Regions from separate parts of the Homo sapiens genome. Here region 2 is reported to be linked to region 1. The links are microRNA targets in miRTarBase. Many come from high-throughput screens and were not tested one by one. Region 1 holds a microRNA gene; the other region holds the end of a gene's coding sequence.

Region 1 (3,232 bases):
GGCCCTGGCTTCCCTGGGTCACTATGCAGATGGCTCAATGTGAGCCGTTCTTGCTCTCTTTCAGAATTCTTTCTTGCGCTGCTAGTAAGGAAACAGGTGCTTTCCTCCTGGGCTGGCTGGAGCACTCCGTGTTTCCTGAGCTGGATAGATGTCATGGCCACATGTCATGTAGACCCTTCCTGGAACACAACACAAACTCGGTGACTTAAACCAACAGATATTTACTGTCTCATAGTTCTGGAGGCAGAAATCCAAAATTGAGGTGATAGCAGGATCATGTTCCTTCTGATCCTGTAGGAGAGAATCTTTCTTTGCCTCTTCCTAGCTTCTGGTGCTTTGCCAGCAATCCTTGGCATTCCTTGGCTTGGAGCTGCATACCTCAGTCTCTGCCTCGGTTGTCACATGGTATTCTTCCCTTGTGTACCTGAGTCTCTGCAGCTCTTCTCTTCTCACAAGGACACCAACCATATTGGACTAAGGGCCTACCCTACTCCAGTATGACTTGTTTTAAGAAATTACATCTGCAATGACCCAATTTCCAAATAAGGTCACATTCTGAGGTATTGGGGGTTAGGACTTCAACATATCTTTTTTGGGGACCCAACTCGATTTATAATAAGTAATGTTGTAGTGGGTGTCAAAATGAAGGTTTGGGGATATCATTAAGAGGGTAGGGCTAATTCATGGGGAATTTACGGTGCATTTAACCAGGAATCCTGGTAGGTTGTTGGGTGGTTGAGGAGTCAAAGTGAGCTTTGGGTTCTGCTATAATGACATGATGGCCAGGAACACAGGCCTGCCTAGATGCCAACCCTTCTTCCCACTAGATTATTCTCTAAGGAAGGTGCCCACAAGGAACAATGGTCAAATAGGAAACAAAACACCACCTACAAAACTGATCAAGCCTATTAGTAAAATATGGTCCATTGATTGTTTGGGTTCTGACCAATCATGTTACAGTGTTTTCTCCTTTAGAGAGAGCTGGTGACATGAGAGGCAGAAAAAGGACCATGGTGGGGAGGCCCTGATGTGAGAAGGTTGGTGGCAGGCAGGAGAACTCTAGCCACTAGTTTGAGGGTCTCTACTTTATGGAAGCATAGGTCTGAGAAAGGGGTTCTAGGTGATGATAGCCCTGTTCTTTGAACCAGGGTACCACATGAAGTTTCAATCTGGGCACGGGGATGGGTTCAGAGGTGCTCAGTACTGTATGCTGAATCTGCATCTGTAAGTCAGAGGAGACCAAGACTTCACTCCAGAAGCTGGGCTGGGAGCTGATTAAATCTCTCTTCCAACCTCCAGTTAGAATAGAGAGAGGCATACATGTATCCAAATGCAGTGTGTGTGGTTGTGGGGAGATGGAAGGGAAGGGAAGCCCAGATCCAGAGACTGGAAATCGAGTGAGAACCTGCCCTTTTGTCAACATGTTCCTTCTGTCGAGCATTCTTTATATGGTCCACAGTTTTCATCACTTGTTCAGTCATTCTGTGTCTCTCTCTATAGCTGTCATACTCACTTGGCAAAACTCCAAGCTGAATGTACTCAACCCATTACCTGCCAGAATTTGAGCAACTGTATGTTGCTGGAGAAAATCACACAAACTGAGAAGCTTCTTTTTAAATGCATAATCTCAACCCACCACTTGGTATTCAAACTGTAGTTAATAAACTTGCTTTTCCATCATTTAGGATGCTATTTCCTACCTTTGCCTATCTTCTCAAATTCCCTACTCCATTCCTGCACCCTTCACTCTGATCTAATTATCCTGTTTCAATTGTATTTAATTAAAAAAATTAGAACCATCAGCCATAAATGCCCCTAGCTTACATCTGAGTTCATTTGGGTCTTCTGCTTCTGGTCCTTCTGGTATAAAGGTGAAAATATGCTGTTCCCACCCCAGTTCCTGGAGCTGGATACTCCTGGAGTTCTAGATCCTGTCCTTTCTTACCTTCTCAAGGTTTTACTCCTCTGGCTATCTCCTATTCATCCTAAATTACCAATCCTACCCTCTTCTCTAGGGCTAGTCTCTTCAGTTCACAAACACGATTGACATTCCCTTAAGCCTAAAAGTCCTTTTTTGATTCCTTCATCCCTCTTCAGCTACTGCCCATTTCTCTGCATCGCTTCACAGTTTAACATCTCAAAATAGCTGTTTACATACTTGTTCCATGGTTTAAGCCTTTAATTAGTTTTCAGACTCTCGAGTTGGGTCTCTGACTTTAACACTTCACCCAAACTTCTTGTGTCAAGGTTACCAACAATCTCCAGGTTGCCAAGTCCAATGGACAATTTATACTCTCATTTTGCTCAGTTTCTCACTTGAGTTGTATCCCAGTGGCCACTCCTTTATTTGACAGTCCACCTTTGGTTTTCTTCCTTTCTCTAGATCTCTGACAATTTCATCCCAGTCTCTTTTATAGGTGCTCTTCCTGTACCAATGTCTACATATTGCTTTTTTTTTTTTTTTACAGTGCTTATTCTGTCTGCACTCTCTTCCTAAATGATTTATTTTCATGGCCCAAGATATCATCTGCATGCTGATGTTGTCTAAATTTATATATCCAGATCAATCTCTCCTTTGACCTTTAGATACACATATCCAACTTTCTACCTGCCCTTGCTGCCCTCACTCCCTCCTCCTTCTTGTGGTCCTCAATGTCTGTTGTTCATATCTTTATATTCATGTGTTTTCAATGCCAGAACAGAACTCTTGATTTTCTTTCCCCTGTAGTATCTTCAACCAGCTCCTCTCATAGTTTACCTATTCATTTTAGTAAATGGCAAGACTCTCCACCCACTTGCTCAAGCCAAAAATGTAAGTCTTATCCTTTATTTCTTCATTTTGTTGTTGTTTTTTTTTTTTTTTTTTTTTTGAGACAGAATCTCTCTCTGTTGTCCAGGCTGGAGTGCAGTGGTGCTATCATAATTCACTGCAACCTTGACCTCCTGGGCTCAAGAGATCCACCCACCTCAGTCTGCTAAGTAGCTTGGACTACAGATGCACACCGCCTTGCCTGGCTAATTCAATGTCTTTTTGGTTTGTTTTTTTTTTTTTTGTAGAGAGGGGTTCTTGCTATGTTGCCTAGGCTGGTCTCAAACTCCTGGGTTCAAGTGATTCTTACACCTCATCTTTTTAAAAAATCAATAAATCCTGTCATTTCTATCTCCTAAGTATATCTTAAGTCTGTCTGTTGGCTTCTGTTATTCCTCACTAGTCTAAGCCTTCAGAATCTTT
Region 2 (3,000 bases), not on the chromosome of region 1:
ATACGAACCTAACTGTCTAGACAACTCACCATGAACCTAACAGCTCTGCTTCCAGGAAAACTCAGAGTTTTCCCACTGAACTCACCTCTGGAAAACAGAATGAATACATGTTTCTTTCTCAAAGGTCATCAGTTTATGAAAATGACCCAGGTCCTAGCTGTGGGTTAGAGGGGCCCTTTCTGGAACTCCAGAGATTGCTCTGTTCTCCTGAGGGTCTCTGCTAACTTCCCTCCTTTCTTTTTCAGAGTGAAGATCTGTCTGGCTTTATCACCAGGATGTCACATGTCAGAGAGTATCATTAAAAGAAGACGCTCAGCACTGTTTCAGCCCGAAGCTGCTTGCAGTTTTCTTTTGGATCTGAGCAATGACTGTGTTTGGAAACATCTGTGGACTCTGTTAGATGAGGCACCAACAAGGCAAGGTCACCTGCCTCTTTCCCTTGTTCCCGGATGGGGCATTCATCATTGTGCTGTTTGCGTTTTGTTTTGTTTTGTTTTAACAAAATTAGCTGAAGAAGTTATTCTCAAGAAAATTGGATGTTTTCATTGGCCTTCTTAAATTGTGGCCAGTGTCTTTTAATTTCTTCTTCTTTTCCTTTTGGCAAAGCAGATATAACCCTCAGCATGCTAGGAGAGTGCACCCGTACCTATGGAAGTGGTAAAATCTGGTATTTACTGGCTTACACTCAAAACGACCACAGTCCTACCTCAGTTCAAGGTAAAGCCGGATTTCCGTGGCGGGGGTCCCACAGGACCTCCTGTAGTAGCCCCTGCGCTGTGTGTCTGGAGCGCGGTCCTCGGCCTTATTGAAATGGTCCAAGTAGACAGCTGCTTGTTGGATTCCAGTGCAGGTACCTGCGATGTTTACGTCCACACCGAGCCCAGTGTGGGACTGACATTTCTCAATGGAAGTGAAATTTGGGATTGGACTTTGAAGACGGATTACTAAATAATAATTATTATATGTAACTGAAGCAACCTACTTTTGAAAATCAACTGTATTGGGTAGTGGGAGGTGGGAGGGAAGGGCTTTGGGAAGGGGATGAATATCTCTTTTTACCTTTAACAGACTTGTTTAATCTTCTCGATGTAGATGTTTATGTAGGTACTTCACATTGCAAACGCCTTTTATTCTATTTACAAGCTCAGATGTCTCTGCTCTCCTGAATCTTGGGCATGCCTTTCTGTAACCAAAAATCCCTGTAGGCGTGCTAGCAATTCCAGGGTGGTCCGGGTTTGGCAGATTTGATTTTTAAAAAACGTATTATCTTTAATAAAATGTTATTATGTCAACCAGTGAGGCTGCCCTGAACAAAAAAAACAAAAAGAAAAAAAAAAAAGGAAAGAAAGAAACTGATAAAAAGAGGCATTCCAGCCCCTATGTTATTGATGGAAAAAGAAAAAGAAGAAAAGCAATCTCGCAGTACATGTTACTTGTCGAAAAAATTCCGGACAAGACTACCCTTGTTTTATGTTTTCAGTATTCTGAAAATACCAGTGTGTGGCAGTTCTCGCAGATGTTACCTAAAACTGCTGAACTTGACCGGCAGAATGTTCTGCCGTTTTCTGCTCCCTCGACACTTGATTGGAGGGCTGTCGACCTCTCCTCCCGTGGGGGCTTCCCCAGTGCCTATCTTCTCTGATAGTCATGGAGAGGTTACACTAATTCATTGGAGATGTAAGTTGTTGGTTTTGTTTTGTTTTGTTTTTAGAAAAATATATATAAATATATAATAGATATCTATCGCTATAGAATAATGCATTAATAAAATGAGGCTTTTTTAGAGGAAGACCAAAAAATTCAATGTCTTAAAAATATATTTAATGGCAATGCAAAAGTCTTCCTGCTTCCGTGCTGAACTTTAGAACAGAGGATTGTATTGCAAGACAAAGTTGAATGTAAAGTGATCTCCCTGAACATTTTTAAGGTTTTACTTTTCTGAAATTATACATCACAGCAGTGCATAGGCCATATAATGTTAGCTGGAAGGTCAATTTCAGTGTATGATATACTTTATTAAGATGTATAAAAATCCTGAAGTTTTTATTTAGTTTTGGGAATAGGCATCAATGGGTGGTATTTGCTTTGTAACTCCCCCCAGGTACGATAGGGACTGAATATGGACCCTGCTGAAAGCAGTGTATTGACGCATATTTAACTCGCCCTCTATCCGTAGAGTAGTCATGACACTATACAGATGGTTCGTGTTCATACTGCAGCTTAAAACAAGCAAAATACACAGATGATAATATGCTAAATTTTCCTCTATCCTGTACATTTCACAAAAAGGCATATGCAATATTTACATTTTTAATTTAGTTTACAGAATGGAACCAAAATGTATAAATGTTATGTTTGCTAAAACTTCACAATGTATATTGGGTCTTTGTACATTTTGCCTGACTTACCTTAAATTTAAAATATTTTTTGCTATATAAACTTTAACAGTTATTAAACAGTGTTTTCTTTTTGGGTACGTATTGTTTCTGGATATCAAGATGTTAAATATATTTCTTGCTATTGTGATATGACAAGAGACTTAACTTATCTTGCTCTGTCTTCCACTGTACACGCTGTATATAGGGGTCAATGTGATGCTGCTGGAGACGAGAATAAACTGGACTAGAATAGTGCATTGTATTTAGTCTGTATTGATCATGGATGCCCTCCTTAATAGCCATATGCAATAAAATAAAGTACATTATTTATGAAATGAATACAGTCCTGAAGATTTTTTCTGTACGAATTCTCTGTTTAACATAAAGCCAATCTACTTTTAGAGTTTGGGAGTAAGTGAGGAAATACTAGGCTCCTAAAAATACTTGGATACCCCTTTTAATTTTAAAACTTTTATTCTGGAAGCCAAAAAATACCTGCCAGATAACAACATTTATGAAAAGTAAATGTGTTATATAACAAAACAGAACATTCGATGTACTCTACAAAACAGAGTCCTTATGACGTGCTGGATGCCATTCTAAATACATAACAAATATTAAC

What was found. Region 1 holds the annotated microRNA hsa-miR-4299 (GCUGGUGACAUGAGAGGC, at 981-998, shown strand). A microRNA usually pairs through its seed, bases 2 to 8, with sites in the 3' UTR of a target mRNA and lowers its output. Matches are read on the target gene's strand: a 7mer-m8 pairs with bases 2 to 8, a 7mer-A1 pairs with bases 2 to 7 and ends in A, and an 8mer does both.
Region 2: the mRNA of IRS2 is a reported target of hsa-miR-4299. Seed matches in the 3' UTR shown: 7mer-m8 at 268-274.

What each region holds. Positions count from the first base shown.
Region 1 is chr11:11,654,427-11,657,658 of GRCh38, reverse strand. It overlaps MIR4299 (microRNA 4299), which reads left to right and starts at 937; the gene lies at 937-1,008.
Region 2 is chr13:109,753,554-109,756,553 of GRCh38, reverse strand. It overlaps IRS2 (insulin receptor substrate 2), which reads left to right. Exons shown (of 2, transcript NM_003749.3): 2 at 246-3,000. The coding sequence ends at 250. Among named protein-coding and RNA genes, the nearest start is that of LINC00676, 27 kb to the right of the region's middle.